7 linked regions of the Homo sapiens genome follow. The protein of the gene in region 6 purifies or fractionates together with the protein of the main gene of each other region. This does not show direct contact. Each region holds a gene or a part of one and is shown on either strand. Other genes may lie near its edges. The genes, in order: OTUB2, PRDM1, FAM170A, LRBA, KCTD13, SENP1 and RNF146.

Evidence for each region.
Region 1: the proteins of SENP1 (region 6) and OTUB2 purify together in Homo sapiens (affinity purification with western blotting, with the first as the bait; one study listed by BioGRID). This does not show direct contact.
Region 2: the proteins of SENP1 (region 6) and PRDM1 purify together in Homo sapiens (affinity purification with western blotting, with the first as the bait; one study listed by BioGRID). This does not show direct contact.
Region 3: the proteins of SENP1 (region 6) and FAM170A purify together in Homo sapiens (co-immunoprecipitation; one large-scale study listed by IntAct). This does not show direct contact.
Region 4: the proteins of SENP1 (region 6) and LRBA purify together in Homo sapiens (co-immunoprecipitation; one large-scale study listed by IntAct). This does not show direct contact.
Region 5: the proteins of SENP1 (region 6) and KCTD13 purify together in Homo sapiens (co-immunoprecipitation; one large-scale study listed by IntAct). This does not show direct contact.
Region 7: the proteins of SENP1 (region 6) and RNF146 purify together in Homo sapiens (affinity purification with western blotting; one study listed by BioGRID). This does not show direct contact.

Annotation. Positions count from the first base shown.
Region 1 is NC_000014.9:94,036,340-94,039,839, reverse strand, and holds part of OTUB2 (ubiquitin thioesterase OTUB2), read right to left. Parts: intron 2,461-3,500; coding exon 2,365-2,460; intron 878-2,364; coding exon 759-877; intron 1-758. UniProt on the Homo sapiens protein: Hydrolase that can remove conjugated ubiquitin from proteins in vitro and may therefore play an important regulatory role at the level of protein turnover by preventing degradation.
Region 2 is NC_000006.12:106,088,783-106,093,088, reverse strand, and holds part of PRDM1 (PR domain zinc finger protein 1), read right to left. Parts: intron 1-4,306. UniProt on the Homo sapiens protein: Transcription factor that mediates a transcriptional program in various innate and adaptive immune tissue-resident lymphocyte T cell types such as tissue-resident memory T (Trm), natural killer (trNK) and natural killer T (NKT) cells and negatively regulates gene expression of proteins that promote the egress of tissue-resident T-cell populations from non-lymphoid organs.
Region 3 is NC_000005.10:119,627,889-119,632,709, reverse strand, and holds the start of FAM170A (protein FAM170A), read right to left. Parts: upstream 3,153-4,821; 5' UTR 2,942-3,152; coding exon 2,872-2,941; intron 1-2,871. UniProt on the Homo sapiens protein: Acts as a nuclear transcription factor that positively regulates the expression of heat shock genes. Binds to heat shock promoter elements (HSE).
Region 4 is NC_000004.12:150,854,522-150,858,827, forward strand, and holds part of LRBA (lipopolysaccharide-responsive and beige-like anchor protein), read right to left. Parts: intron 1-4,306. UniProt on the Homo sapiens protein: Involved in coupling signal transduction and vesicle trafficking to enable polarized secretion and/or membrane deposition of immune effector molecules. Involved in phagophore growth during mitophagy by regulating ATG9A trafficking to mitochondria.
Region 5 is NC_000016.10:29,908,767-29,913,072, forward strand, and holds part of KCTD13 (BTB/POZ domain-containing adapter for CUL3-mediated RhoA degradation protein 1), read right to left. Parts: intron 3,284-4,306; coding exon 3,194-3,283; intron 3,102-3,193; coding exon 3,049-3,101; exon of another isoform or gene 2,895-3,048; intron 2,792-2,894; exon of another isoform or gene 2,408-2,791; coding exon 2,212-2,407; intron 1-2,211. UniProt on the Homo sapiens protein: Substrate-specific adapter of a BCR (BTB-CUL3-RBX1) E3 ubiquitin-protein ligase complex required for synaptic transmission.
Region 6 is NC_000012.12:48,067,558-48,071,863, forward strand, and holds part of SENP1 (sentrin-specific protease 1), read right to left. Parts: intron 4,165-4,306; coding exon 4,110-4,164; intron 1-4,109. UniProt on the Homo sapiens protein: Protease that catalyzes two essential functions in the SUMO pathway.
Region 7 is NC_000006.12:127,273,101-127,277,406, reverse strand, and holds part of RNF146 (E3 ubiquitin-protein ligase RNF146), read right to left. Parts: intron 1-4,306. UniProt on the Homo sapiens protein: E3 ubiquitin-protein ligase that specifically binds poly-ADP-ribosylated (PARsylated) proteins and mediates their ubiquitination and subsequent degradation. May regulate many important biological processes, such as cell survival and DNA damage response.

The sequences.
Region 1 (3,500 bases), on a different chromosome or scaffold from region 6:
CCATGGCCCTCACCAAAGCCTCTAAGGGCTCTGAGACCCCCAAAGGTTAAGAGCCAGGTGGGTCTCTTAGCTCCTTGCTCCTCAAAGCGTGGTTTGAGGCCCAGCAGCATCAGCATCTCCTGGGAGCCAGTGACAAAAGCAGTCCCTGCTCTGCCCTGCTCCCACTGGACAGGAATTCGGGTCCAAGCCAGGTCTCAGGGGTTTGTTTGTCTTTGCTTTTTTTTTTCTTGCTATGGACTAGAGAACCAGGCGCCTTGTACAAACTTCAGATATGAGAAGCCCTGAACTAGCCGAGATGACAGGGGCAGCTCTGGACACAGACCTTCTCCAGCATGAACCTCAGGGACAGGCCCAGCCAGCTGAATGCCTGGGTCACACACACTCCACACCAAGGTCAACAGGAATTATGCAGAACACCGGGGCAAAGCTTCTTTTTGTTTGTCTTTTCTTTTCTTTTCAGAGTGGGTCACGAAGTACCTGCTCCCTGCGACTCACCTGGGCTGACCCAGGCCTGTGGTGGAAGCAGAGGCTGGAAAGCATCTGGGAGGTCACAGATTCCATCCTCCACCCCTTGGCTGCCCCCAACTTCACCACAGCAGGCAGCTGGGCACCCCCAACATCAAACGCCTCTGCCAGGCAGCTCTTCAGCTCATTCTCTGGGTTAACCAGCCTGAGTGTAACGAAAACCTCCGAGAGACTTGAGGCTGACCTAGCACAGAGAACACAGCCCTGACAGGCCAAGGGGCCCCGGCACTCACTTGAAGATCTCCCTGCTCTTCCCCAGCAGGGACTCCAGGTAGGAATAGCCCAAGGCCCTGTAGAAGCAGTTCCCATCCCCTTTGGTCTTGCGGATGGCGGTGAACCTTTTGCTGAGTTCCTGAGGGGGACAGAAAGAAATGTGGGCATTTGCACCAACAACGGCTCTGTGTGGTTTGGGCACTGGGACTGGCCAGGTGCCCCCCATCTCTCCCAGGAAATGTCTGCTCCCTCCCTTCAGGCTGCTATCCCCTCAGCCTCCCACCCTCGTTCATTCCCCTGATATAAAAATACACTGCATTGTCCTGTGTGTCCGTCCCTGCCCCCAGGCAGCCTACGGTCCGGGAGGGAAGATGGATAATTAGACAGTGGCATTGTGAGGGGACAGGAGTGCCTGGCTGGGTGCCACGGGGCACTGGCATTGCACTGGATTTTGGAAGTTGGGGAAGCCTTCCTGGGGGAGCAGCACTGAGAATCGGGAGCTGGCAGAAGTAGGGGGTAGGGGGTTGCATGTGTGAGCAGGGGCGGGAGGGGTGGGCTCCAGCTCCACTCCTAGCAGTAAGTAGGTGTCCCTCTGAACTGGCCTGGAATCCCCTTTCCTGCCTCATGGGACTATAAGCAGCATTTTGACAGCAGAGGATGGTTTTCAAGGGGTCTTGGAGTTCCTGTTCCCCCCATAGCCATGAGAAGGCTCAGAGCCGACTTGGGCCCACCTGAGGCCAGCTGGCAGTGGGGAGGCAGGCACTCTCTGGAGCCCCTGGCTCATCTCCCAGGAGGGCTCTGGGGGACACAAAAGTCAGTGGGCTGCAGAGCCCAGCTCCTTCCCTGGAAGTGCCCCGCAGCGGCGTTCGGATCACATGATGCCCACACCACTACCCCTGGCTGCTGATGGACATCTGACCCAAGCTGGACCTATCAGAGTCTCTGAGGATAAGTAATGAGGCCCAGCAACGGTGCTGCGTGTCTGAGAGGAACTTGAAGGGAAGGGCCTGTGGGGCCAGTGCCAGAGCAAGCCTGTCCTGCAGCGAGAGGAAGACCTGCAGAGTGCAGAGAGCGGCCAGGGCCTCCTACCAGAGGGACAGAGTGGGCACCCAGCTCCTCCTGCCATCCACGGGTGAGTGCTCCATGAGCGATCCCTGCAGCCTTCCCACAAATCCCTTTAGCCTCACTGGCGTAAACTTTCCCTCCAAGAGGTCTCCCAGCACAGCAGTTATGAATGTGGCTTGAGACTCAGCTGCCTGGGTTTAAATCCTAGCTTGGCCACTCATGAACTAAATGGCCACCACTTAATTTGTGTGCCTCAGTTTCCTCAGCTGTAAAATGGGGGTAATAAAAGTACTTACCTCACAGAGTTGTAATGAAGTATTGGTGAGTAAATAAAACATTAGGATAGTGCTAAACTTTTCAACAAAAAAAAATCCTTTTTTTTTTTTTGGAATGAAAGGATTTATCGCTAAGGCAAATGTCCAACATCAAAATATCCTAGGAATCCTTTCATTTGCCCAGGAACCTGGCCCAAACTATCGGCCTTCAAAGAGGCATCACCATTACACTCCCAACTCCAGCCTGTTTAGTTTCGGATGCTCTTCTCCCTGCCCTCTGCCTCACCTCGATTTTCCTCCGGTAAATCCTGTTTTCAGGATGGTCCCGAAGAATGGATAGAATGTCACATTTTTCTGATATTAGGTTGAAAGATGTTTCACTCTGAAAGATAGGGAAGGAAGAAATGCTGTGACAATTTCAAAAGCAACGGACGGGACTCCCCGAGCTGGTGGCCTCTGAACTGCCGGTTACAGACAACAATGAATGAGACCTTCCCACCTTCTCATGCTGGGAGTATGTTACCAGCATCCTAGACGCCCGTTGGGATCACCGCATTTCCAGAACAGGGATAGTCAGGGTCGGGGCCATCGTGAAGAGATAGCCCTGGTTATAAGGAAACTCATCTTTTTACTGGAAGCCTGATTCATTTCACAGAATGTGTACCTCAAACTTAACGAACCTTCATGCTGGAGGATAAGGCCCTTTGTCTCCTTCCATCCCTCTTCTCTCATTCATGCATTCATTCATTCGTTCATTCATTCTTTTACTCATCCAACAATTCCTGAACATCCACATGCCCAGCACTGTGTCACATGCTGGAAATACAGAAGGAAGGACGTCTAGCACTCCCTCACCCACAAGGCTCACAGTCTACAGGGAAAAACAATCAAGATAGGGGGTGATAAGGTCACCAGAAGAGGCCGCAGTGTGTGGCACTGGTACATGGAGATGCCAGAGAAGGTGTCAGAGATCTGAGCTCGGGGAGCACAGGGCAGGAGGGCATCTTCATGCACCACCTACCGGCGAAAGTTTACACTACAGCCCAGCTCTGGGTCTAGGTCAATTCCAACCCAGAAAGACAAGCCTCCTACAGGCAGGATCTCTCCAGGCCAGAGAAGAAATTGGCGGACAGAGAGGAGGCAACTGCAAAAGGAAGCTTCAGGGTGAAGGAAACTGCAGGAGACACGTTCTAGCAGCCAACTCCCCGTGGGCCTGGTCTCCGCCTTGTGCTATCTTGTCAGCAGGGCTCAAACAAGCAGGAGATGCAACTCTAGCCTCCAACCCACCCAGAGCCGCTTTGATTGCAGCATGAACATACTGTGAGAGACATGGTGTTAAAGCCACTTATAGTTTACAGCTTAAAATAAATGAGGCTGGCTCCTGCACACAACCCAGGGAGACCATTTTTATGCAATAGAGCA
Region 2 (4,306 bases), on a different chromosome or scaffold from region 6:
GAACAATTAAAAAGAGAAGGCTCTGTGGTAGAAGAGAGGTCTATGATAATCCTCAAACCCCAGACAAATTAAAGAGCTTCAATATTAGCTTATCATTAGGAAAGGGACAGAGCGCCCTAATATTTTAAATTTCAATTACATACAGTGCTATAGGGCACATATAAACTCACACCTATAGATAAAGATACAAAATCATAAAATTTCAAAACTGGAAGGCACTTACAAACCACCTATATCCATTCTAAGTCTAGCGTTCTAATATACAGTAAACATCTTCATCTCAAATGCACGTCTGAGACACAGACGCCATAAAAGCTGAAACTCTAAGACTATGGTGCTTGTCCAGGTAACTTTGGAGGGGGAACAGGAACCAGGATTGTTTTTAAAGGGAAGTGAAAAAACCAAGTACTAAGTCTCCCTCTGGTCCTAGAAAGATCCAGAATGTGCATCTTAGACTACCCATCTCCCTGACCCATAGTTTGTAACAGTTTATCTTTGAACCAAGCAAATACTAAGGAGGAACTTGGTGTGTAGCTTAAACTTCACAGTGCTAAAAAGACAAAGAATGTGTTCACCTAACTCAAGAAGGAAACTTCACTGGAACTGACCAGGGTCCTAAAGAATTACTGCTGGGGACAGGCCGCTCTGTGCCTTCTATAAACTCAACAGCAAGAGGACACCCGGCTTCAATACCTCCTTGCTTCACCTGCTCCCACAGAAGCTCTTTATGTGCGGTGCAGACCCCTCCACCACTTGAGCAGATTTGTTTCTGTCTGTGGCCTCAGTTACAGAACACACCCCGCCGTCCACAGTTTCCACAGCTTCCGGACAAAACACAGGGCTTCTTTTCAATTTTACACAATGAAGGAGATTTGACAGCTTAGGATGGGTTGAGTTGGAGCGCTTAATGGAAGGCTGATAACAAGGACAATATAGGTTTGTTTTTTTTTTTTTTTTTCAAATTCCTTCTTTAGAGAGTATGCAAACAGACACACACAGCGTGGGTTTGAAGCAGAAACTATATCCAAGTCTAAATGTCATCTGATCATCCTCTCCCCAAATTACATTAAGATCATTTAAATTACTAGCTATCTGTTTTCCCTCCCCGAATCCCACTCTATAAGAATGACTCGTTAGATTATAATTCTGTTTTGACCATATGAATATTTGTCTTGAGAGAACTAGAACTCAGTAGTGACCAAGACCTTCAGCCTGCAATCACCTCATTTTTATTTTATTTTATTTATTTAGAAACAGGGTTTTGCTCTTGTTGCCTGGGCTGGAGTGCAATGGCATTTATTTACTTATTTATTTTGAAACAGAGTTTCACTCTCGTTGCCTGGGCTGGAGTGCAATGGCACGATCTCGGCTCACTCCACCTCCCAGGTTCAAGCGATTCTCCTACCTCAGCCTCTCAGGTAGCTGGGATTACAGGCGCCCACCACCACGCCCGGCTAATTTTTGTATTTTTAGTAGAGATGGGGTTTCACCATGTTGGCTAGGCTGGTCTTGAACTCCTGACCTCAGGTGATCTGCTGTCCTCAGCCTCCCAAAGTGCTGGGATTACAGGCGTGAGCCACCGCGCCCGGCAATCACCCCATTTTTAAAAGGAGTGAAGTGAACAAAGTTGTTTGGAGAAGGTTTCCTTCTTCATTATCTTTCTATTAAAGGAGACATGGTGATGCCTTGGTACATCATTTCTCAAATAAAAGGCAACATGAAGAGAGAATTGCATGTTATGGTGAGATACTTTTTACAGATGGCTTGAGTTAATAATGGATTTCGATCAGAATGGACACCAAAGGAGTCCTCACAATCTGTCTGATGTTTATCAGCCACGATACAGGGAGGTGAGACTCACAGAGCCACAGTGCCTCTTGAGTGCAAGCAGTCTCAACCGACGGCAGAAACTCTACAGGGTAACGCTTCTAAAATATAAATGCTTGAACTGATTTTTCTGTAGTCAAGTAGTCATAAGAGATTATTTCAGGAGGACAAGGGGAAAACCCCCATAAAAGAATAACCCATCAGTTTAAAACATTTTCAAAGTTTTGAATAGTAGGTCTATATTTGATTTCAGTTCTGGAAATAGGAAGTAAGAACAGTTTTTCATTAAAGGTGCAGAATGATTCTAAACCCAATCTAAAAATGAGGGTCAAGATCAGAAATATGATTTGTATGTTTTGTTTTAACCAAAAAAAAAAAAAAGGTGCTGACACATGGTACAAATTCATAATGAAAAATGGTCTTGTAAAAAAAAAATTCCCCGGTATGTCAGCACAATAGTACATATTGTAACATCTTTTGCTATTTAAACGAAAACATTTAAAGAAGGGCAAGATTAATAAGTCAGATAAAAAGTACATGTAGAAAGACTCTTCCTATTTCAATGGCTCATGGAACTTAAAGAACTAACTGAATAAAGATAATGTAAACATTTCATCAATCCTTAATGTTGCTGTCCCGGAACTAGTTTGCAGCTATCCTACCCTTAATGGCTCAACTCCACCATCCTCTTTCACCTTCTAAAGGAAGCTGTCCTTTCCCAAAGTTCAAAAACAAAGGAGAGAAACAGAAAAACAGGTACAAATTCCAGAGTAAGCTTAAGACAGTATTACATTCAAGTTTACTCCTTGCTTGACTTTATGATTAGGGTTTAAAGACATACTATCCTCTATTCAAGCGCTTCAGTTAAATGCAAGATAGGGAAATAGGATAAGAGAACCCTCACCTCTTAGGTTAGTTTCGAAGGACCTTCTTCAGGAACACAGGCATTGTCTGTTTTTTGGTTGCTTAATATATTGAAATAGGAAGTTATACATTCAGAGGGAAAAAAACACAAAATAGCTTAAGGATTGGTCTGAAATATATTAAGATGATAACTAAAACCACAGTGACACCAAGAGGGGCCAGTGTAGCATAATCGAGAAGCACTCATTGGAGAAGTCAGAAAAGCTTTGCTTCAAGTCCCCGGTCTGGCTTTACCTATATGCCTTTGGGTAAGTGACTGTCTTTCTGAACCTTGAACTAAATGATCTAAGAGCATTACTTGACTTAGCTATGATTTTAAAGGAGAATGACGGAAATTGAAAAACTTAAGCTAAGAGCTGAACTGACGATAAGAACATTATAGAATTAAAAGGCAAAGATGACCCACAGAATGGAGATTTTTACTTCAGTCCCAAAGGACTGGACAGGGCAACACAGCACAAACGAAGCTTGGGAACAGACGAATATTTGGTCAAACTTGATATGGGGAAAAAACACACTACACTTTTTAAAGCCATAGTCAAACCTCATATACCCAAACAAATCCTACATTCATTCCAAGGGCCACATATTGAGAGACTTTCTATAAGAAGAGCATTACTTTCAGGAAGAGGTATAATTAAGGCTGACCTCTGGGGTTAAATTTTTTGGTAACATTCAACTACAACTAGAATTTAAATTTTATTTTTTATAAAATCTGCCTCCATTCACGCAGCAGTGGGGGAAAAAAGAAAGACTGAGCATCGTTGTTCTATTTAATTTTAGACAGCTGTGTCTCCCCCTCACCAAAAACACTGGACTCAGACACACAAACAGGAAAGAGACAAAGCATTTCCTAGTCTCCCGGATTCCTTCAAATACTGTTCCTTAGGGAAGGGGGAAAGTGATTTGACACGGCTGTAAGGAATAGTCCCAGTAGCAAATTCTGGATTTCTACGGCCAACCATCCCCTTTCCCTACTTTCTGAAGGAAGTAATAGAATTGACAGTGCTCTGTGCTAATGGTGGTATGGGAAGTCTGCTGAGGGGTCCTTTCATTCAACTCAACCCAGTAGTAGACTAGTAAGTGCAACTACAGTAAGCCAAATTCTGAAAACAAGAGGTGGTTCTGCAAGTTATTTCACAGCTAAACATCACGCCTAGCTATAATCTTTATATTAAAGGTAAACACAAATCAGTTGCTCATTCCAAGTTTGGGTTTTCATCCCCTTTGAAACAACAAAGAGTGTACCCACTTCAGAGGCCAGTAAGGAATTGGCCTGCCAGCCCAGCCCCAGCAAAGGAGCTGCTGCAGATAAACAGTGGTTAGCTCTGAAGTCATCCAGACAGAGGACACTTTTACATGACCCCCTTTCTCGGCTTATACCATCACTTCACTTCATAAACACGTCAAAGTTTTGAGGATAGTTTTAGAAACCCAGCTAATAAAGCTGGCTTGTTAAAAAGAGTAAAGCCAACTAATTACCAAAGACAGACAAAAGAAATATTAAAACTTTTTTTTCCAAGAAAAAGTTTTCTCCCTTAAGAGATATTGTACA
Region 3 (4,821 bases), on a different chromosome or scaffold from region 6:
GGTAATGTTTGTGCATCATTTACCATCCAACAAATATTTACTGAGTGGCTGACCTATGTCAGGTGTAGTGAACACACATGGTTTGTGAGACAGGCTTCTGGTGGATACTCCAGTATTTAATTACAGTCAACAGGTATTTTGATAGTGTATCAATAGGAACATAGGCCTGTGTGGTGACTATGAGTACGTCTGAAGCGTAAGAGTGATACATACCAGATAGCCTTTGATATGTGTAGATTTGTGTGGGTATATTGTAGAAACATGTGTCTGTGTCTGTGGAGTTTGTGTGCATAGTTTTGTGTTTACAACCCTGAAATTATGCAATATGTAATTTTTCCTGATTGTATGGTGTGGCTTGTATTTATAATGTACATTAATTCATTCATCTGGCAATATTTTCATGAACAGCTACCATGAATCAGACACCAGTCCACTCTTCTAGGCTCTAGGAATACTGAACAAAACAGTCCTTCTTCTAAGTGGACTTTCCATTCTAGACAAGGAAGACAGACATTAAGCAGAAATATATAAGTATATCATAGGTCAGCTCATTATGAATTTATAAGGGTCATCAGATTTAGCAAACAAAAATAGCTGATGCCAAGTTAAATTTGAATTTTAGATAAATTACAAATAATTTTTTTAGCGTAAGTATGTCCCGTGCAATATTTGTCATACTTATTTTTAGTGTCAGTATGTTCCATAAAATATTTGGGACACACTTATACTAAAAAATCATTGGTGGTTTATCTGATATTCAAGTTTAACTGAACATCCTGTATTTTATCCGGCAACCCTAATAAGGGGATGGTGGTGAATCTTTGTTTCGTTGTGGTCTATGCAAAGCAGGCCTGGCTCTGCTACACAATGTGTTGCAGATATGGCATGTATGATGTGTGACTGGCTCTTAAAGAGGTATTTAGAGATAGTTTAACATAGATGTGTTTGTGTGAGAGTTGAGGAGACACACACACACACTCCCCACACACAAGAAATCTCTGTAGGAAGAAAAGACTGTCACACACATGGGTTGTGTGAGTATGTAATAGAGGAACGGTATGTGTATATAACTATATCCACTGTGTGTGGAGGTGTGTGACTCTTTCTCTGTATCAGAGTATATATGGGCATATGAGTGACTGTCTCCTGGAATACCCTTAACAAAAATTCGGTATACACTGTTATGTGTATTGAGTGTTGCCCAGGCCCAGGCATGGTGATAGGAAGTTCACCCCGCAGACCCCACCACTGTGCTCCCATTATCTCCAGTCCTCCCCCTCCCAACACACACACACATGTGCACACACAGACACACACACAGGCAGACAAAACATTCTGAAATGTAAGGGTAGATGAAGGAGAGGAAAACCATTGCCTTCCCCTTCCTGTCCCAGCCCCCTGCTCTCCATGCCTACTCTCCACGCCTCCATTCCCAGGGCTCAACCTACAGGTCTTTATGCCTCATAGGCGCTGCTGAGCTCTAATCGGGGCAGAAGCCTCCAGGGCCATCTCTGGGGCAGGCTCCTTTCTGCCCTGTCTCCTGCATGTGAGCATCCCCCTTTCAGGATAAGTGGCTTGTTTACATTTAATACATGCCATTATCATGCAGCCTGGGAAGTAAATTGACAGCGATCTGAGGCCCTTACCCTGTGCTTCATTTCCTCTGGGAAGTCCCACACTGTGGATTCACAAACTCTATTGGATTAATTGGTTAATTCTTCCCGCTGAAGCAATCAAACCTCCGTGGTTTCACTATGACGCCATCCCTAAACAAGTGTTTAATCTACTTTCTAACAAGCATTTCACTTCTCAAGATATTTTTCAACAAGGCCTTTAACTCATTGGGCTACTCTCGTTTCTGCTAAAAGGTGTAGTGCAAATCATAGACTTCTACCAGCACCCTTCACACCTTCCACCTCAGTCACCCCAGAGAAAGAGCAAATAAAGAGAATACGAGAGAAAGATGAGACTCAGGCTGCATCACTGGGTCTTTGTAAGTGGGTCCCCCGCCTGCCTGAGACTGGCATAGTTCCAGGTACCAGCAGCCCCAGAGCAAAAGTTCTCAGCCCAGCAGGGTTGGCTTTCTGTGTGCCAGTGGCATCTGAACTTCCTGTCCGTCTCACATCTGGGTACCCTCAAGATGGATGTGCGGGCATCAGCCAACAGCCAGGTCTTCCCCTCCCTACTGCATAGGTGGTACATTCTCCTCAGTTTCTCCTCCCTAAAGAAGGCTCAGGCTGGCCGGGAGCGATGGCTCACGCCTATAATCCCAGCACTTTGGGAGGCCGAGGCAGGTGGATCATGAGGTCAGGAGATCGAAACCATCCTGGCTAACACGGTGAAACCCTGTCTCTACTACAAATACAAAAAAAAAAAAAAAAAAAAAAATTAGCCAGGCGTGGTGGCGGGCGCCTATAGTCCCAGCTACTCGGGAGGCTGAGGCAGGTGAATGGCGTGAACCTGGGAGGCGGAGCTTGCAGTGAGCCGAGCTCACACCACTGCACTCCAGCCTGGGCGACAGAGCAAGACTCTGTCTCAGAAACGAAAAAAAAAAAAAAAAGGAGGCCGAGGCAGGCGGATCAGGAGGTCAGGAGATCGAGACCATCCTGGCTAACACGGTGAAACCCCGTCTCTACTAAAAATACAAAAAATTAGCCGGGCGTGGTGGTGGGCACCTGTAGTCCCAGCTACTCGGGAGGCTGAGGCAGGAGAATGGCGTGAACCCGAGAGGCAGAGCTTTCAGTGAGCCAAGATCGCGCCACTGCACTCCAGCCTGGGCGATAGAGCGAGACTCCGTCTCAAAAAAGAAAAAGAAGGCGGCTCAGGCTGGCCAGTGACGCTTGTGCCCCAGAAAGTTTGCCCCGCACATACCTCCTCCCTTCTCAGCGGTTTCCTGGGACTCTTCATTTTCCAAATGTTTCCTCTTTTGTCGTCGTTTCATGATATCAGCTAGAAGAGTTTCTAGAAGATGCTTAATGTCCACCTCCCACTTTTTCCTGTAGATTGGCCCTTCTTGGCTCTCAGGAAATTCATTAAAAAGATTCAGTACGAGTAAACGTAGTTGAATCTCCGAGATAGCTAAAGAACTCAGACCGCTTAGTGAAGGAGCAGCACTGCCCAGTGCCCACTACACTGCAGGGCTGTTAAGGTTCAAAGGTCACCAGGCCCATCGCAGATTCTCTGACATCAATGATGACATCACGGCGTTCTACGGACCTAGGTCCAACACAGTCTGTGCAACTGCAGAGACATCATTTTCAAAAACAATTCCTTTTTTCCAATAGAAGTCCTCTAATGAATTCAACTCTCCCGTATTTCAAATGTGGCAGAATATTTTGAGATGTTAACATGTTCTGTTTAATTTTTTTCTTTTCTTCTTTTTTTTTCACCCTTTCCCTTCTGGACTCAAGCAGGTAGCAGGCTTTGTGTTCATTGCTCAGAGGAGGGGTATGGCAGGGCTGAAAGCAGCAATAGCATGTTAATCATCTTGACTTTTCTTTCTTTTTTTTTTTTTTGTTGTTTTTATTTTGTTTTGTTTGTTCAGAGACAGGGTCTCTCTCTGTTGCCCAGGCTGGATTGCAGTGGTGTGATCATAGGGTCACTTCAGCCCCTAGGCTCAAGTGATCATCACACTTCAGCCTCCCGAGTAGCTGGGACAACAGGCACCAGACACGAGGCACCACACCCGGCTAATTTTTTTTTTTTTTTTTTTTTTTGAGAAACAGGGTCTCAGTATGTTGCCCAGGTTGGTCTTGAACTCCTAGCCTCAAGCTATCCTCCTGCCTCAGGCTCCCAAAGTGCTAGGATTGTAGGCATGAGCCACCACACCCCACCTGACTTTTATTTCTAAAATCTCAAACTCTGTAGGAAAGAGGAAAGTTAGCAGAAACATAACGGAAGCAGGATTTTTTTTAACTAGGCATGCCCCCTTCTTGCTCTACTATAGTGTTGAGAGGTACTGATTAGGTCAGAGAGAGAGAGGGATCTTCAAACTATGGAGGAGAGGAGCCCTCTAAAATGTGGCTGAAGAGGTACATGTGGCAAAAACTTCAAGAAGGGCTGCCTGTATTATGCGTACAGGCAGAATCATGGCGACCTATCTCACACATGGCATAGGAGCCACACCACCTAAAGACTCCCTGGCAGCTGAGCTGATGGGCATCTAAACTTCAGCTGTATGCTCCAATAACCAGAGACTATGCTCTCACCCCACCCTCAAAACCTCAGCCCTGTATGATTTCCAAATAGGGAGGGGTGGAAATCCAAAGAGGACATCAACAGAACCAAGGCTTAAATTACAAATTAAATGGAGTTACATAAGAAAATTGCATACTATTTCCTGCACATCTCTGCTCATGGGCTGAAATGTATACCAGTTATAAGTGGCAACCCATCTGGATCTTCCTGATTCCAATCTAAAATTAGAGACACCTTATTTGGGGCAGTGGCCCCAGTCCAGTGGGACTATTAGTTGACAAGTATGAGGGGGACTCCCAGAAATCACTGCATTAAAAAAGCAGTAGAAATACCCAGAGGACCAAGATGGGCCCAAATTTGAAAGGGCACTGCAGACTGTCCCCAGGCAGAAGGAGAATGAAGATAGGGCAAATGTAGCCTTGTAAAAATTTGCTGATGAGATTAAATCTCCAGTTTCTTAAAGAATCCCTAAAAAAGAGGGGCCAAAGAGCATTTTTTTGGGTGGTAGAAATTTTCAGACTAAAGTAGAGAGAATTGTATAATAGGAATGCAGTTTCATGTACACATAATCCAGTTTCAACAGTTATCAGTATTCTGCCATTCTTGTTCCAACCACCACACACA
Region 4 (4,306 bases), on a different chromosome or scaffold from region 6:
GAAGGTGTCAGAAAATAAACACACGAATATGTAAGATAATGTCAAATAGTAATAAGAGCTTTGAAGGGAGGGGGAAGTACAGAGTGAAGAACTGTTCTGAAAGTCTAGGCGAGAAGGTGTATTTACTAGTGTAACTGCAGTAGGCCTCTCTGTTCTATTTGAACAAAGGCAAGAATAAAAGAGAGAGCAAGCCATGTAAAAAGAAAAGAGTTTCAGGCAGAGAAGAACAAATGCAAAGGCCTTGGAGCTGAAATAAGCTTGGTATGTATGATGAATAACAATAAAGCAATAAACTGAGAACTAAAGAAAATGAGGTCAAAGATGTGGCCACGAGCTAGATTATGATTGTAGAACATTATAGACTGTATTAAAGACTGTATTTTATTCTGAGAGAGCCATTTGAGAATTAAGAGTGTAGGGAAGACAATCTGATTTCCCTTTTTAAAAGATCAGTGGCTGGGCACGGTGGCTCACGCCTGTAATCCCAGCACTTTAGGAGTCCAAGGTGGGCAGATCACCTGAGGTCAGGAGTTTGAGATCAGCCTGGCCAACATGGTGAAACATTGTCTCTACTAAAAACACAAACATTAGCTGGGCATGGTGGCACACACCTGTAATCCCAGCTACTCAGGAAGCTGAGGCAGGAAAATTGCTTGAACCCAACCCAGGAGGCAGAGGTTGCAGTGAGCCAAAATAGCACCACTGCACTCCACCCTGGGTGACAGAGTGAGACTCTGTCTCCAAAAAAATAAGACTGGTTAGCCTACTTTTTGGAAAACTGACTTTAGAGAGAGCATTTCTCCACCAACAAACAATTATCATTGTCAAAAGAAAGCAAGTTACATATTACCAACCTCACAGTCATTTTGAAAATAGGCCATTTATTTCTACAATAGCCTGTGTTATAGAATGACTTTAGTTTTCAATAATCATTTGCTTTGATTTTATTTATATTAAAGGTTTTTAGAATTTGTATTATACAATGGATCAATAAACATGAGTATATGTAATTTATATGTACAGGTTAAGAAACAATTTTTTTTAATCTCACATGCCTACCACCCATGTCAAGAAGTAAAACGTTACCAGTACCTCACAATTCCCCTATGTGCCCTGCCCAAACTGTACTCCCTATTTCTCCACTACAATCAGAAAAAAATCACTATCCTGGTATTTCTATCGTTCACTGTTTATAAATAGTTTTACCTGGAGGTCAGAGCTTTGGGAGATAATTTTAAAAGATAGTTTTACTATCTATATACTAAACATACCCATTATGTTTAGTTTAAAAAACTAAGTCTAACACAAACCTAGCCAATTGTATTTTAAAGAGCAATACTGCCACACCTGAGCTCCCAAGAAAAGACAAGATACACAGAATCTGTGAGTTGCAGCAGGGCTTCAGCTTATTTGAGAGAATATGTAAAGCCATTTCTGGGAAGTCTTATAGGCAAGTCATTAGGAAATACAGGAAATATAGAGGTCAAGAGAACTGGAGAACCTATCAGAGGCAGTGTGTGCCAGGTAGAGTGTATTGGCATGAAATACTTTATATTTTTCAATTCTAAGCTCACCATGGTGAACCTCTACCCTAAGAAGTAGGTCGAAGCACAGCATGTCTTTGTGGAGTGAAGTGAGAATCTTCAGGTGATTCACATTAGACAGGAAAACAGGAATTTAATCAGCACATGATGAAGGCAAGCAAGCTAAGTACTCCTAATAAGAATACAGGTCCACCTCTCCTGAGTGAAACTGCTCCAGTCCAGATGGACTGTCATCTGCCTACTACATAGCTGCTATTGGGATCTCCCTTTCTACAGTCCTGGAGATCCCCTTCATCTCTCTTCTATGTTGTCTCTTGTTTCTTATATTTCATTTCTTCCTCTTTGTATTATTCTCTCCTTTTGTGCAATATCCTGCAGTGCCTTCTTAAGAAAGGATGTATATAAATGTTTTGAGATCTCAAATCCTGAAAAGGTATTTATTCTCGCTTCATACTTGATTAATAGTCAGAGTATAAAACCACAGATAGAAAAGCATTTACCTTCAGAATCTGAAATGCTTTTAAAATTCTAAAGTCATTTGGTTTTTAAATTTGCCCTTAATTTAATTCATCCAATGGTCTAAAAGCTAAATTGCAATTGAACAACTATCAGTATTATCTTTTTGGATGCTGTTTTCCTTAAGATATTTGTGACTTTAAAACTGATAATTTCCAATTAATTGCCAGATATTGTTCTAAATTACCCAGCTAAAAGACTAGTCATTAATCTTCACAATCATTTGATAGCTAATCTATAGCTGTTTGTAATGTTTGGAAAGCACTTCTATAAACTACTAGTTAAAGATACTTGTGAGCTAATGACTATAACATTTCTTTTGCCATTATTTTCAACTTAATTGGCACTCAAATTTACTAATTAGTAGATAAAAGATAAACACAATACATCCAGATGTTAATATTATCTTTTTAATCTATACATTAAAACCGTATAACCTGTAAAATTTAGACATTTTAAACTGTTAGGCAATGTTTAGCAACTGACTTTGTTTTTAAGCAAAGGCATCTTTTTCAGTGTCTGTTTTCATATGAAAATACCAGCTAAATATGATGTTAACTTCTGATTAAGTTACCAACCTTTGATAAATAAGATATATCTTTAAAAACAGGTGGATCTTCCCATATGTATTATCAATGAGCATAAGTCAAAATGATTGCCACCACATTAATGAGATCTTTTATAAAGACTCTGATGTATAACAATGGTATAGGTAACAGATATAATGGTAAAATCAAGCATTACTGACATAATTAAGAGCAATTCTAAAGGTTGGTAGTACAATCCCCATTTATAAAGATAGGAAGAACACTGACAAAAGAATATTGCAGCAAATAACTTCTAATCTTTTCATTTTTAAAACAGTCATTTTGATCAATTTTAATTTCTTAAAAACAGTCTAAACAGATGCTTTCATGCAAATCTAGCGTATAAACTGGTACAAATTTTTAGAGGGCAATTTAGCAATATCTACTAAAAACTTTTTAAAACATGTACAGACTCCTTCCTCTGGAAATTCCACTTACAGGAATTTATCCTACAAAATAAGGGTTACAGTATTGAACCAGGCTCATCATTGGTCAATGATAAGGAACAGATAAAGTATGATTATAATATAAATCAATAGATTTTTTAAATCTCTCTTCCATCAATTTTTCTAAATACAATTTTGGAGAATGCCAGAATATAAAAAGAAAACTTGAATCATTTACACGGTCACTCCTTCCTAGAATTTTAAGTGGTCTGATAACATTCAAATGTTATATCAAAGCTGAATCTTATGCTCTTTACTTCTCCATAATGTCATATAATATGCAGGCATTAAAATTCATGTAAGAAGCATATCATTAAATAATACTCTAAAATAGTAAAAATACGATCACATTTTGTTAGCAAATAATTATATGTTATGTATAGATTCATGTATAGAAGAGAAGACTAAAAGGTCTCGCACTAAAATGTTAATAAGTTATACATAGGTGTTTGGATAATGGATAATTTTTGTTTTCTGTGTGTATGCATTTCTGCTGGGTTCAAGATTTCCTGTAATGAAAACTTATTATTATTTTAAATTTTTTAAAGTAATAAATGCTATTTGGTTTCAAAATGTTAAAGCTAAGAATACTTTTAGCCAGGAACAAAGGTACATGCCTGCAGTCCCAGCTACTGGAGAGGCTGAAGGGAGAGGATCACTTGAGCCAAGGAGTATGAAGCTGTAGTGTGTTATATATAATGGCACCTGTAAAGAACCACCGCACTCTAGCCTGGGAAGCACAGCAACAGTCTGTCTCTCTCTCTTTTTCTTTTTTTTTTTTAAGTGCCATTTAAATTTGATAAAAACACACACACAAACACTCACACAGAAATCAGGTATTTTTAAAGAATTATTTAGCAATTAAATAAGGTGCAAAGTGCTGATAATCCATGAAATGCGGACATTTTGTAACTTTTTTATTTTTGTAATTTTTGTGAGATATCTCCTTTCATCACCCAGACTGAAGTGCAGTGGCACAATCTCAGCTCACTGCAGCTTCAGCATCCCGTATTCAAGTGATTTTCATGCCTTAGTCCCCAGTAGCTGGGACCACAGGCATGCACCACCACTCCTGGCTAATTTTTGTATTTTTAGTAGAGACAGGGTTTCACCACGTTGACCAGGCTGGTCTCAAACTCTGGCCTCAAGTGATCCACCTGCCTCAGCCTCCCAAAGTGCTGGGAGGCATGAGCCACCATGTCCAGCCAATTTT
Region 5 (4,306 bases), on a different chromosome or scaffold from region 6:
ATCATGTATCCCTGCAGCCTCAACCTCCCGGGCTCAAGTGATCCTCCCACCTCAGCTTCCTGAGTACCTGGGTGTACCACTATGTCCAGTTAATTTTTTTTTATTTTTTGTAGAGATGGGGTCTTGCTGTGTTGCCCAGGCTGGCCTCAAACTCCTGGCCTTAATGGTCCCCTGCCTCAGCCTCCTAAAGTATTGGGATTACAGGTGTGAGCCATGCACTCTAATTATTGGTTTATCTTCCTATCTTCCCAATCAGAGGATGTTTCTTGGAAGCTGGGTCACTGATTCATTCATTCATTCATTCAATAAATGTTTCCTAGCTTCCACTGTGTGAAAAGGGCCCAGCTAATGGGAGATAGGAAAGAAAAAGACATGGCCCTGCCCTCAAGGAACTAACACCTCGCTGCTGATGCAAACCCCCTCCCCTCCACCACACATGATAAAACACTGTCTTTAGCTATGAAGGGAGTGTGACCAACTTTGGGGTTGCTGGATTGAAAGTTCATGAGTGAAGGTGACCCAAAGAAAGTGATGCTTAGCTTGAGTCTTAAGATTAAGTACAAGTTCATTAGGCAGATAGAAGGAAAGAATTCCAAGAGGCAACAGTGTGTGCAGAGGTAAGAGGTAAGAAATAGCACTGAGTGCTTAGAGACTTGTGATGACTGTGGTGTACCTGAGGCATGTGGCTCATAGTAAGCTCGGAAGGGACCAGATGAGGAAGGGCTTGTATTTTGCTCAGCACTTCATTCCCCTTGATTTCCAGCCCGGTACAGTACTTAGCACAGAGCAGGGGCTTGGGGAATATCTTGATGATTGCCACATTAATGACTCAGGATCTACAAACTCAGAGGATGTTCTAAGAGACATCTGATTCTGAGGTTTTAAGAATCTATTTTTGGCAATGGGCCTTTCTGAGTTTCCCTTTTTTTTTTTTTTAATTAGAGTTAGGGCTCACTCTGTCTCCTAGGATGGAGTGCAGTGGCATGATCATAGCTCCCTGCTGCCTCAAATTCCTGGGCTAGGGCGGGCCCGGTGGCTCACACCTATAATCCAAGCACTTTGGGAGGCCGAGGAGGGCAGATCACTTGAGGTCAGGGGTTCAATACCAGCCTGACCAACATGGCGAAGTCTCTACTAAAGAGACTTCTCTACTACATTTAGTCTCTACTAAAAAATACAAAAATTAGCCGGGCATGGAGGCGGGTGCCTGTAGTGCCAGCTACTTGGGAGGCTGAGGCAGGAGAATCACTTGAATCTGGGAGGCAGAGGTTAAGTGAGCTGAGATCACACCATTGCACTGCAGCTTGGGCAACAGAGTGAGACTCTGTCTAAAAAAAAAAAAAAAAAAATAGGCTGGGGGCAGTGGCTCACGCTTGTAATCCCAGCACTTTGGGAGGCTGAGGTGGGTGGATCACGAGGTCAAGAGATTGAGACCATCCTGGCCAACATGGTGAAACCCCGTTTCTACTAAAAATACAAAAATTAGCTGGGCATGGTGGCACGTGCCTGTAGTCCTAGCTACTGGGGAGGCTGAGGCAGAAGAATCGCTTGAACCTGGGAGGTAGAGGTTGCGGTGAGCGGAGATTGTGCCACTGCACTACAGCCTGGTGACACAACGAGACTCCATCTCAAATAATAATAATAATAATAATAAATAAATAAATTACTGGGCTCAAGCAATCCTCCTGCCTTAGCTTCCTGAGTAGCTGGGATTACAGGTGCATGCCATCATGTCACCAAGCCACCACACCTGGCTAAATTTTTTGACTTCTTACAGAGATCAGGTCCCACGATGTTGCCCAGGCTGGTCTCGAACTCCTGGGCTCAAGTGATCCTCCTGCCTTGGCCTCCCAGAGTCCTGGGGTTACAGGCGTAAGCCACTATGCCTCACCCCTTCTGAGTTTCTAATGGCAACTATGGACCCCCTATACAGAAAAATGCATACACCCCCATTTCAGGAGTTGCAAACAGCCTTGAAACCCATCCAACAGGCCTAGGCTAAGCACCCTGCTCTAACCCGTGACCCCCATTTCACAGAGAAACAGAGACCCACAGGGATAGGGTGGCTTGCCCACTGTTGTGCACCCCAGACCCCAGGATCTGGCTCCTGCCTCCTGGTGGTGGGCTCCTTCCCCTGCCAACCTGCTTTTGTCCAGGGTCCTGGTCCTGGCCACCCCCAGCCCCCAACATAGGCTCTGGAGCCCCTCTGACCTTGGTCTGCTTCTTCTCCGTAGCATAGACAATGGAGGTGCAGCACACCTCGGCGATTTTGCGGCCCTGCCCGTAGAAAGACCAGCAGCAGATCTCGTCCCCCAGGACATCCTTGAGGAAGAGTAGCCGCCCGTGGAAGCGCAGGGCCAGCTTGTCGAACAGCTCGATGTTCTTAAGTAGGTTGTCATCTGAAGTGCTGGGGACCAGGGGACCAGGAGGCCTCAGCGCAGTTGGCACCCCTCCCTCTGTACCCCCAGAAGACGGGCCTGGATGCATTCCCAGTCCTCTGCTCCTGCCCAGGGCTTTGGTGCTCAACAGAGAGCCTCCTCCACCCCTGGGGCCAGGCTAAACGGGTCTCAGAAGGGAAGCCACATGCGCTGAGCAAATCCCAGCACAGCACAGCACAGCAGCTCCAGTGAGGGACCGGGAGCCAGGCCACCTCCCCGGGGGTCCTGGTGTCCCCATTTTTTAACTGGGTGACACTAGGCAAGTTACTTCACCTCTTGGTGTCCCGACCTCCTCATCTGTAAAATGGAGCTCACAACAGTACTGACCTCAAGGGGGAGGACTCTGCCAGTTCCTAGAATGAGAGCACTTGGGATAGGCTCGCCACTATCACTTTGTCCTCACCCAAACCCATTTACTGATGACTGAGCTGAAGCTGAGAAGCAGAAAGGACCTGCCTAGAGCGTCAGGGGTAAGAGGCGAAGCCGAATCTGCGAGCAGGCACAGATGTTCTTGTAGGCCCCCCGTGTGGCCGTGGCCCTCGCCTTGGGCAGAAGCAGGGCTGTGCTGCATCCCAGGGTCCCGCCCAGTGCCCCGCACCCCGGCGGTCACCTGGTGTAGGAGTACTTGTTGTTACTGCGGTTGTGCAGGAGCTTCACCACGGGCTGGCGGGGGAGAGAGGATGGACGAGAGGGGTGAGGCTGCAGGGAGAGGCCCCCCCAGTGAGCCTCCACCCTGCAGGGCTTGGGGGCCTCACCTTGGAGGTGCTGGCCAGGAGCTGCTGCTCCTCCCGGGGAGATGTCACCATGGGGATGAGGCACAGCGGGGACAGCGTCTCCCTTTTTTGCTGGGGAAGAAGCGGAAGGTGGTTAACAGCACAACCAAAGGCCACGTACTCCCCCACTTAAAAGCCTTCAAAAGCTGGTTGGGAACAACTCCAGACTCCTCAGTGGTCCGCAGGGCTCTGCAGGCTCCAAGCTCCGCCAGCCTCTCTGCCACTCTCCCTTTGCTTGCTGGGCCTTGGTCCCACGGACACCTTGCTGCTTCACACATCCAGCTTGTGCCTGCCCCGGCCACTGGCTGTGCCCCTGCCCGGGATGCTTCTTTGCTCAGCTGTCAGCGTGGCGTGTCCGTCATGCCATTCAGATCGCAGGTCACACAGTGCCTCCTCAGGGCCAGCCCTCCCCAGCCCCCCTGGCTAAAACAGCCTCCTCTACATCCTGCCTTTTGTGTTATCAGTTTTCTTTTTCTTTTTTTGAGACAGAGTTTCGCTTGTTGCCCAGGCTGGAGTGCAATGGCGCCATCTCGGCTCACTGCAACCTCCACCTCCCGGGTTAAAGCAATTCTCCTGCCTCAGCCTCCTGAGTAGCTGGGATTACAGGCATGTGCCACCACACCCAGCTAATTTTGTATTTTTAGTAGAGACGAGGTTTCTCCATGTTGGTCAGGCTGGTCATGAACTCCCGAACTCAGGTGATCAGCCCGCCTCAGCCTCCCAAAGTGCTGGGATTACAGGCGTGAGCCACTGCACCAGGCCTATCAGTTCATTTTCTACACAGCAGTTAGTGTCTGACTTTTTCTAACTTTTTGTATTTGTTTATGATCTGTCTCTTCCCACCTAGGAATAACTACCTAGTATACAGCTGATGCTCTGTATTTGTTGAATGAATGAACATATTTGTTGAGTGAATGAACTTCATTGGGTGGGATGACGTTGGAGAAAGAAATCTGAAGCAAACCCATGGGCTTCTTTCTCTTCTGTCTTCTAGAATCTTCATGCCAAAATCCCTCTCACTTCTCCCAACCTTGAAAACTCAATGCGCAATTCTAATACAAATTCCAGATTTGTTTTTTGCAGAAACTCATAAGA
Region 6 (4,306 bases):
CCAAACTCCTAACTAGGCAGGATCTATCACAGAAACACAAAGAAGAAGAGTGAACACTTTTCCAAAGAAAACTATTAAATATAGAGAACAAGTAAACAGAGCATCAAATTGGGAGTTAAGAGACCTGGATCAGAGGCCAGGCATGGTGGCTCATTCCTGTAATCCCAGTGCTTTAGGACGCTGAGGTGGGAGAATCGCTTGAGCCAAGAGTTCAAGACCAGCCTGGGCAACATAGTGAGATTCTGTCTCTTAAAAAAAAAAAAATGATCTGCAACTAGAATAGTGCTTGGCACAGAGTAGGCATTTAGTGTTGTTTGTTTGTTTTTTGACTCTCACTCTGTTGCCCAGGCTGGAGTACAGTGGCACAATCTCGGCTCACTGCAACCTCCACCTCTCGGGTTCAAGAGATTCTCCTGCCTCAGCCTCCTGAGTAGCTGGGATTACAGGCACCCGCCACCACACCTGGCTAATTTTTTCTTTTTTTTATTTTTATTTTAGTAGAGACGAGGTTTCACCATGTTGGCCAGGCTGGTCTCGAACTCATGACCTCCGGTGATCCATCCACCTTGGCCTTCCCAAAGTGCTAGGATTACAGGCATGAGCCACCATGCCCAGCCATATAGTATTTCTTGAATAAACAAGTAATGTAGGGACAAGCAGTTTTCTTCAATGGATCAAGGTATCCACTGGCTCCGGAAAACAAAATGCAGGGAAAATCTGCTTTTCCAAAGAGATGCATTATTTCTCATATAATTGAGGCATATAGTAATAATAACTGCAAATGTTTTTGAGCACATACTTAGTGCTCTACATGTAAAACTCTGCTCTAGATGTTTTATGTATTAGTTAAGCCTAATGAAAATCCCTATACTATTTAAACCTCAACATAATATATAAAAAAGAATTATTACTCATACTGTACAGAAATGAAAAAGGAGGTTCAAAAAGATAATTTCTCTTGAAAGGCTAGGATTAGAAATCTTATCTGTCCAATTCCAAAGACTGTGTTCTTTCGACTGTGCCTTTCAATAGATGAAAGCATTAAAAAAAAGCGGGGGAGGAATAAGTACTTGGGCTACTCAAGAGAGCACTTCAGGCTATCTAGGAAATTCATTTGTTTAACAAAGATTTATTTACTGAGCACCCATCATATGCCAAGCACTATGACCAGCAATGGGTGACAGATACAAAAGTATTAGTAACAAACAAGGTAGAAGGATGGAGGGAAAAACTAACATTATCTGGCAAAGTCAAAGAAATCTTCTGAGAAAAAAAAAATAACACCTGGATGAGATTTTGAAAAGCAAAATTAAGGCCAGGCACAGTGGCTCATGCCTGTAATCCCAGCACTTTGGGAGGCTGAGGTGGGTGGAACACCGGAGGTCAGGAGTTCGAGACCAGCTTGGCCAACATGGTGAAACCCAATCTCCACTAAAAATACAAAAATTAGCTGGGTGTGGTGGCATATGCCTGTAATCCCAGCTACCCTGGAGGGTAAGGCACGAGAATCACTTGAACCCGGGAGGCGGAGGTTGCAGTGAGCAGAGATTGTGCCACTGCACTCCAGCCTGGATGATAGAGCAAGACTCTGTCACAAAAAAAAAAAAAAAAAAAAAAAAAAGAAAGAAAGAAAAGGAAGCAAAATAAGAGCTTACCAAGTAGACAGAGAGAGAAAGGGACATCCAGACAGAAGGATCAGAATGTATAAAGGCAAAGAGGTATGACACAGCATAGCATATTCTGGGAAATAAAAGCAGATCTTCATTACTGGAACTTAACTGAGAGGCAGTAGTGGAGAATTAAGAGTAGAGAGCCAATAAACCAAGCCTCAGCAGAGTAGGCACCAACTTTGACAAAGAGCATTGCTCAAACAGCCTTACCCAACAGACCATTTCTCCTGCCATCTCATTCTTTAGTCATCACTAGGGGAAATCCTCCGTAAAGGAAAGGCAGTCTTAGTAAAGAACCATTAAGGAACTGAGATCAACTCTTTACCTGAGAGATCAACTTCTTCCCAAGAAAGTTGCATGCATCTTGTGGCATTTCATGTGAAGCACTTATAAAAATAAGTGTTTTATCTGTAAGTTAATCTTCACAATTAAGTGTAAGGTATCAATACTGGCATTTTATTGATAAGGAAACTGAGGTTCATAAGAGTAACTTGTCCAAAGCTACATGAAGCCTTTTCCAACCCAAGATCAGAAGGCAGATCTGACTCCAAAAAAGATGTAAGAAATAAAGAATCCAAACTATGAAGTCTCCCCAAAAGACTTAACAAATAGAGAATTTTAAGAAATATTTAAAGCTTAGAACATATGGGGAGCTGCAAAGAAGTAGGGGAACTGAGATGAGAAAGAATATTTCATTACTCTTAATCTTCTCAACGGAAAACTGATATTATTCTCATCCTAGCAATTGAATTCCCAAAGCCATATATGGCAAAGGCATAGCAATCATAGTAATGGTTACTATGGATTACTATTACTGTATTACAGAGGAAGAAGTATTTGATACCTCCAGATAAGTAAAGTTTCATGCAGAAGTTCACATGTGAGTTGAGACCTAAAAGATAAAACACTACTGACAGACAAAGTTGAGGTACGGAGGACATTCCAGGCAAAAAGAACACTGAATGTGAAGGTAAGAAATGCTTATTGTATTTGCAAACTGAAAATAGTCCAGCTTATAAAAACACATGAAAGAGTCCCATATTTCCATATGGCTCCCTCTTACCTCCATCATGTCTCTGCTCAAGTCACTTTATCAGAGACTTTCCATGACCACCCTATACAAATAGTATCCTCCCAATCCTACTCTATATATTACCCTGCTTCAATTTTCTTCATAGCACTTATCACAAGGCATATACATTTGTTTATCCTTCCCCTCAAGTAGAATGCAAGCTCCTTGAGCATAGGGACTTCACATTGTCCTTCATCCTTCCCCTCAAGTAGAATGCAAGCTCCTTGAGAATAGGGACTTCACATTGTTCCCTATTATCCTCAATATTTATACTAGTACCTGGCACACAGTAGGCTCTCAGTAAATATTTGTTAAAAGTGAGAAAGTGAGGCTTGTGAAAGAAGTGCTTTGTATACCATAGTAAGGAGCCTGAGCTTAATTCAATGTCTGATAAACCACCCTTGAAGGAGGTTAACAAATAATCATTAAACCCCTTTAATGAATGATCAGACATGAATTCTGAAAGATCACTCTGATTGCAGCATGGAAGATGGACTAAAGAACACAGCAGGCCGGGTGCAGTGGCTCACACCTACGATCCCAGCACTTTGGAAGGCCAAGTTAGGAGGATCGCTTGAGGCTAGGAGTACAAAACCAGCCTGGTCAACATAGCAAGATCCCGTCTCTACAAAAGAAAAATTTAAAAGTTAGCCAAGTATGGTGGCATGCATATGTGGTCCCAGCTGAGGCAAGAGGATCACTTGAGCCCAGGAGTTCAAAGCTCCAGTGAGCCATGATTGTGCCACTGCACTCTTGCCTGGGTGACAGAGCAAGACCCTGTCTCAAAACAAAAACAAAAACAAAAACAAATGAAAAAAGAGCAAGGCAGAAAAATTGTTTCAAGAACATGGTATGGTGGAAGACGGAATGAAGAACAAAATAGAGGCTGAAGGAAGAACAATTATAAAGCCACTAAAATAATTCAAGTAATACGTGAGAAAGGTCTGAATTGAGGTAGTTTTACATTATGTAACTTTTAGTGAAAAAGCTGTGATTAAAGAAAGGGAAAACAATATGTTAAGAAGAAACTTTTAGGCCAGGCATGGTGGCTCACGCCTGTAATCCCAGCACTTTGGGAGGCCGAGGCAGGTGGATCACTTGAGGTCAGGAGTTCGAGACCAGCCTGGCCAACACAGCAAAACCCCATCTCTACTAAAAATACAAAAATTAGCTGGGCGTGGTGGCGGGCGCCTGTAATCCTAGCTACTCGGGAGGCTGAGGCAGAAGAATTGCTTGAACCAGGGAGGTGGAGGTTGCAGTGAACCAAGATCGCGCCACTACACTCCAGCCTGGGCAACAGAGCGAGACTCCGTCTCAAAAAGATATATTAATTAATTAATAAAGAACAAGCTTTTTCCAAAGTTTACCTGGGAGTTGGAGTCTGGGAATCTTTCACTTTCAGTAAAATCACAGAGTCTGATCCTAAAGAAACACAAGAGCATTTCATTAGTAATAAAACTCCACAAAGTTATACTTTCTAGATATCTTAGTTTAAGTTCCCATACTTTGCTATATTTTATTTCCACAAAAATAACATAAGAACAAAGGTTAGATGGGAGAGAGA
Region 7 (4,306 bases), on a different chromosome or scaffold from region 6:
TTTAGATGAAATGGACTCCACTATTTTGACTTTCCTCTCAACCCTTTCACCAACTTCAAGGAGCCTACAACTTCAATGGCATCAAAGAAGGCTATGTTCATTTCCTTGCTGCAGCCTACGCCAAACAGAAAACTGCACATTTTCATACACTCCCTATATATAGGACAGGAGGAGACAATTTACTGCTCCAACATCATTACTTTTTCTTTCAAGTCTCTATCACACTGACTTTAACATACCCCATAATCCCCTAAAACTGCTCTCTCACCACCTGTAAGGGATTAATGTCATCTTTTCACTACTGATCATCCTCTTCATCCTAACTCCTGACATGACTATCAGCCTATTTAAATAGCCTTGAAAATGAACCATCCAACACCTATTGCACAGGTTCTTAAACTTGTCCCAACTTCTATTCATCAGAATCACTGAAATTGCTTGTTAGAAATACATATTCTCAGCCCCTTTCCTTAGAAATTCTAGGCCAGTAGACATAGGTTTAAACCTAGGAATCTCACCCCAGGTGGTACTCATGCTTTAGTCCTTCAAATACAATCTGAGAAACACCATCCTCAATTTTCAGTTCCTTAAATCCTAAATTTGAAGAAATTAATCTACTCTCCAGCAACCAAATATTATAATCACATTTAAAGCTAGTTGTCACCTAAACTGCTGCCTCTCTGAAATCTTAATCCGACTCTCAGATCACAAGCTCTGGTTCTTCCAGCCTACTCATTCCCACACCTGCTCTTCAATTTCATGGGGACCTACCATCTCTTGACCATCTCCTTTCCTTTATCCAGTTCCTGATCTCATTTCCTTTCCTGCCCATTCTGGAACCCAATCTTTTTTACTTCTTAACAGAACCCTTGGCCCCCTCATATCTTTATCTCATATACACACATTTTACAAACCCCCATTTCTGCATAATTCTTACAATATGACATCTCAGGTTTCATGTCTTAACTACTTTGTGTTCATGGAGAAAAAGAGAAAGTCCTTTCTCTCACCACACAGCCCCCTGCTCCCCCACCCCAACCAACCACACCATAAATTCTGTCAACTTTTATTCCTAATCCCTTTGGAATCTATCCTGTACTCTCTACCCATTGCTAGTGCCCTAGTTTAAACCTACATAACTCTCACCTGGACTATTGTTCAGCCTGATTATCTTGTGTCAGTATCACCCTCATTTATTAAGCCTTTGAGTGAGATTCTCTCTCTCTCACTCTCTCACACACACACACATACACTCACTCTACAGTCTGTTTCCCAGGCTAGAATGCTGTGGCATGATCATAGCTCACTAAAACCTCAAACTGCTTGGCTCAAGCGATCCTCCCATCTCAGCCTCCCAAGTAGCTAGGACTGACTGATATATTTAAAAGGCAAAATGGACCAGGTTTCTTCCATATGTGAAGCACAATATTGGGTCCTCAGCCTACACAATAAAGACAAAGCTCCTTAGGACAACATTAAAAGGTTTTAAAGATCTAAACTGTAAATAATTAGTCTCTAGTCTTTTTTATCTTCAACAACCACCCATAGATTAATAATCTAGTTGTATAAAATTACTCATAGTCCTGCAAACCTCCCTTTGTAGCTCTGTATTTCCTCCTGCCTGGTACGATCTATTCCCTTTTACAGCTTATGAATGCCTATTTGTTCTTTAATATATTACACAGAAATGGTTATCTCTACCATTTTCTCTGACTACCTCCAGAAAGTTAACTGTTCTCTCCTCTATGTTTTGTATGTTTTTCTATTACGGAATTTATCACATGCACTAATTTCAATTCATTTGTGAAGTCTGACTCTTCTGTGAAATCATGAATCCCCTGAAGATAGGGAGATTTTTATATCTTTAAATAGCTAGTAAATTGTCAATCAATTTTTGTTGAACTGATATTTTTTGGATGAATGAAAAATCAACTCCTAAAAGTAACTATTGTGAGGAACAGAATATCAAAGGATTAGATTTATTCAAATAACACAACACTTGAGTTCTAATTGTGAACTCAAGCTGGAATCTGTAAGATACATAAAAATATCTAAGTTCTAATCCTTGCTTTATATAACTTAAAATCTAAAGGAGTTCCTACATTTACAAATATAAAATTCAACCCATCTTTGTATCTTTTGGCAAGCAAATCATTTACCCAGCTATTGTTCATTGTCAATGAATTCTCCAAAATGGAGATAAAAATCTAAGCATAAACCAAGATGGGTTTCTGAACAGCCAAAACAGCTTCACAAAGCTCTTTCCCCAATAAAGCTTATGATTCTTCACTAGGATGACCACATAGGTCAGCCCAGCATCTATCCAGTTTGCCCTTGGTCTCCCAACAAGTGTTCCAGTTCAGAAAAATTATACAGACATTCTACCCTTTACCCATCACAAAGGTTTTCGGACCATCACTCAAAAGTCAATTTGCTCTTACTTTACCCACAATTCTTTTGTTTTGTTTTGTTTTAAGAGACAGCGTCTGTTAACCAGGCAGGAGTCCAGTGGTATGACTGCAGGTAACTTAAACCTCAAACTCCTGGCCTCATGTGATGCTCCTACCACAGGCTCCCAAAGTGTTGGGATTACAGGTGAGGGCCACCATGCCCAGCCTTTACCCACAATTCTAACTTGAAGTTTTTTGGTCCACAAAGTCCTGCTGAGTGTTGCTGTTGGTCATTAGCACTGCCTATCCTTCGCTATCTTACAAGTCTTTTAAGATGTACCAATCCATCCTTCTCAGAACCTAATTGATTGAATGGTAAAACCTCTAGTGTGAAGATTCAATTAAAACATTTCTTCTAAAAATTTCGTTCAATCACTATTTGTACTTTAATAATTGAGATGTGTAGAAGGTACCATTTTATTCCTAAGAAATACACAAAAAATGTCCTTGTTTCTAATTCTCCTTATCTCCTGAATGCATTTACACATTATCTGTAACCAATCTAATTTATTCCTCTCTATTCACTTACTTTACTTAGGTCTTATCCATAAATATTTTATCTCTGAAACAAAAGTTGATTCTTAAAGGAATCTAAGTTAACTGAAACAAAGCAGCTTCAAAATAAGTACAAAAAAATCCTCTAAAGAACCCATATTTGAACACCCAAATAAGCTGTGATCTTTCCTATAAAACTATTTCACATAGCTGAAATAAAGCTATAGCCACAAATATTAAAGTAAAAGCTTTGCTACATATCCACTAGAACAAAGGTACTAAAAAAAAATCTGGTTAATTCAAGGAGATGCATTCTCTCATTCTGCTTTCCTTATTTGAAGACTAATGATTAAATTCAAGTAACTTATCAATAGCAAAATTATTTGAAAAAGCCCCTTATAAAGAAAACACACACACACACAAACCCAGGAGCAGAGAACTATTTACTTAATAGTACTGAAATAACAGCAAAGTATCTATGAATAATGACTTTCCATCAATATAAACTTTCTCCTTCAACAGAAAGAACATCCTTGCCCTCATTACACTCCTCTAGTCCAGTTATGTTCAGCAGTAAACAAAAGAATGTATCAGTGACCATAACTCACATTCGAGTATCTTTCTATACATTAATGCCATTTTCAAAAGAACACAGCCAAAGACATATTTATTTAGCCTATTTCTTCAATTTTTTTTTTTCTAATTCTGGCCTGAAGTCATTTCTAGGATTCCTTTAGAAATGGCTTTCTCTAATTTTCAAAATATTGATGATGTCATTTCTTTCTTTAAAGATCTTTGACGATAACCTCATACAGCTGACCTTTCAACAACACAGGTTGGAAATGAACAAGTTGACTTATATACATACAGTTTTTTCAATAAATATGTTGGAAATTTTTTTGGAGATTTGTGACAATTTGAAAAAACTTGCAGATGAATCATGTAGTCTTGAAACATCAAAAAAAGGAAAAGAAAAAATTAGGTATATTATGAATGCATAAAACATATATAGTCTATTTTATCATTTAGTATTATAAAATATAGAGAAATTATAAGAAGTTAAAGTGTATCAAAACTTAGTAAACACAGACACATATGGTGCCACTTGAGGTGGTACAAGAAATTTAAACAAATGTAAAGATGCAGTATGAATCATAGCTGTATAAAATTAATTGTAGTACATACTGTAATAATTTCCTGTTGCTATTATGAATTTCCACTTAAAATGCTGTGGACACTAATCATCTCTGCATGTATTGGAGTAAAATGTAATCTCTTGTTCTTGTGTATTTTTCATCATGTTTAGTACAATACCATAAACCTTGAATAACACCATGGGACCCATGTGAAGTGCCACTAGT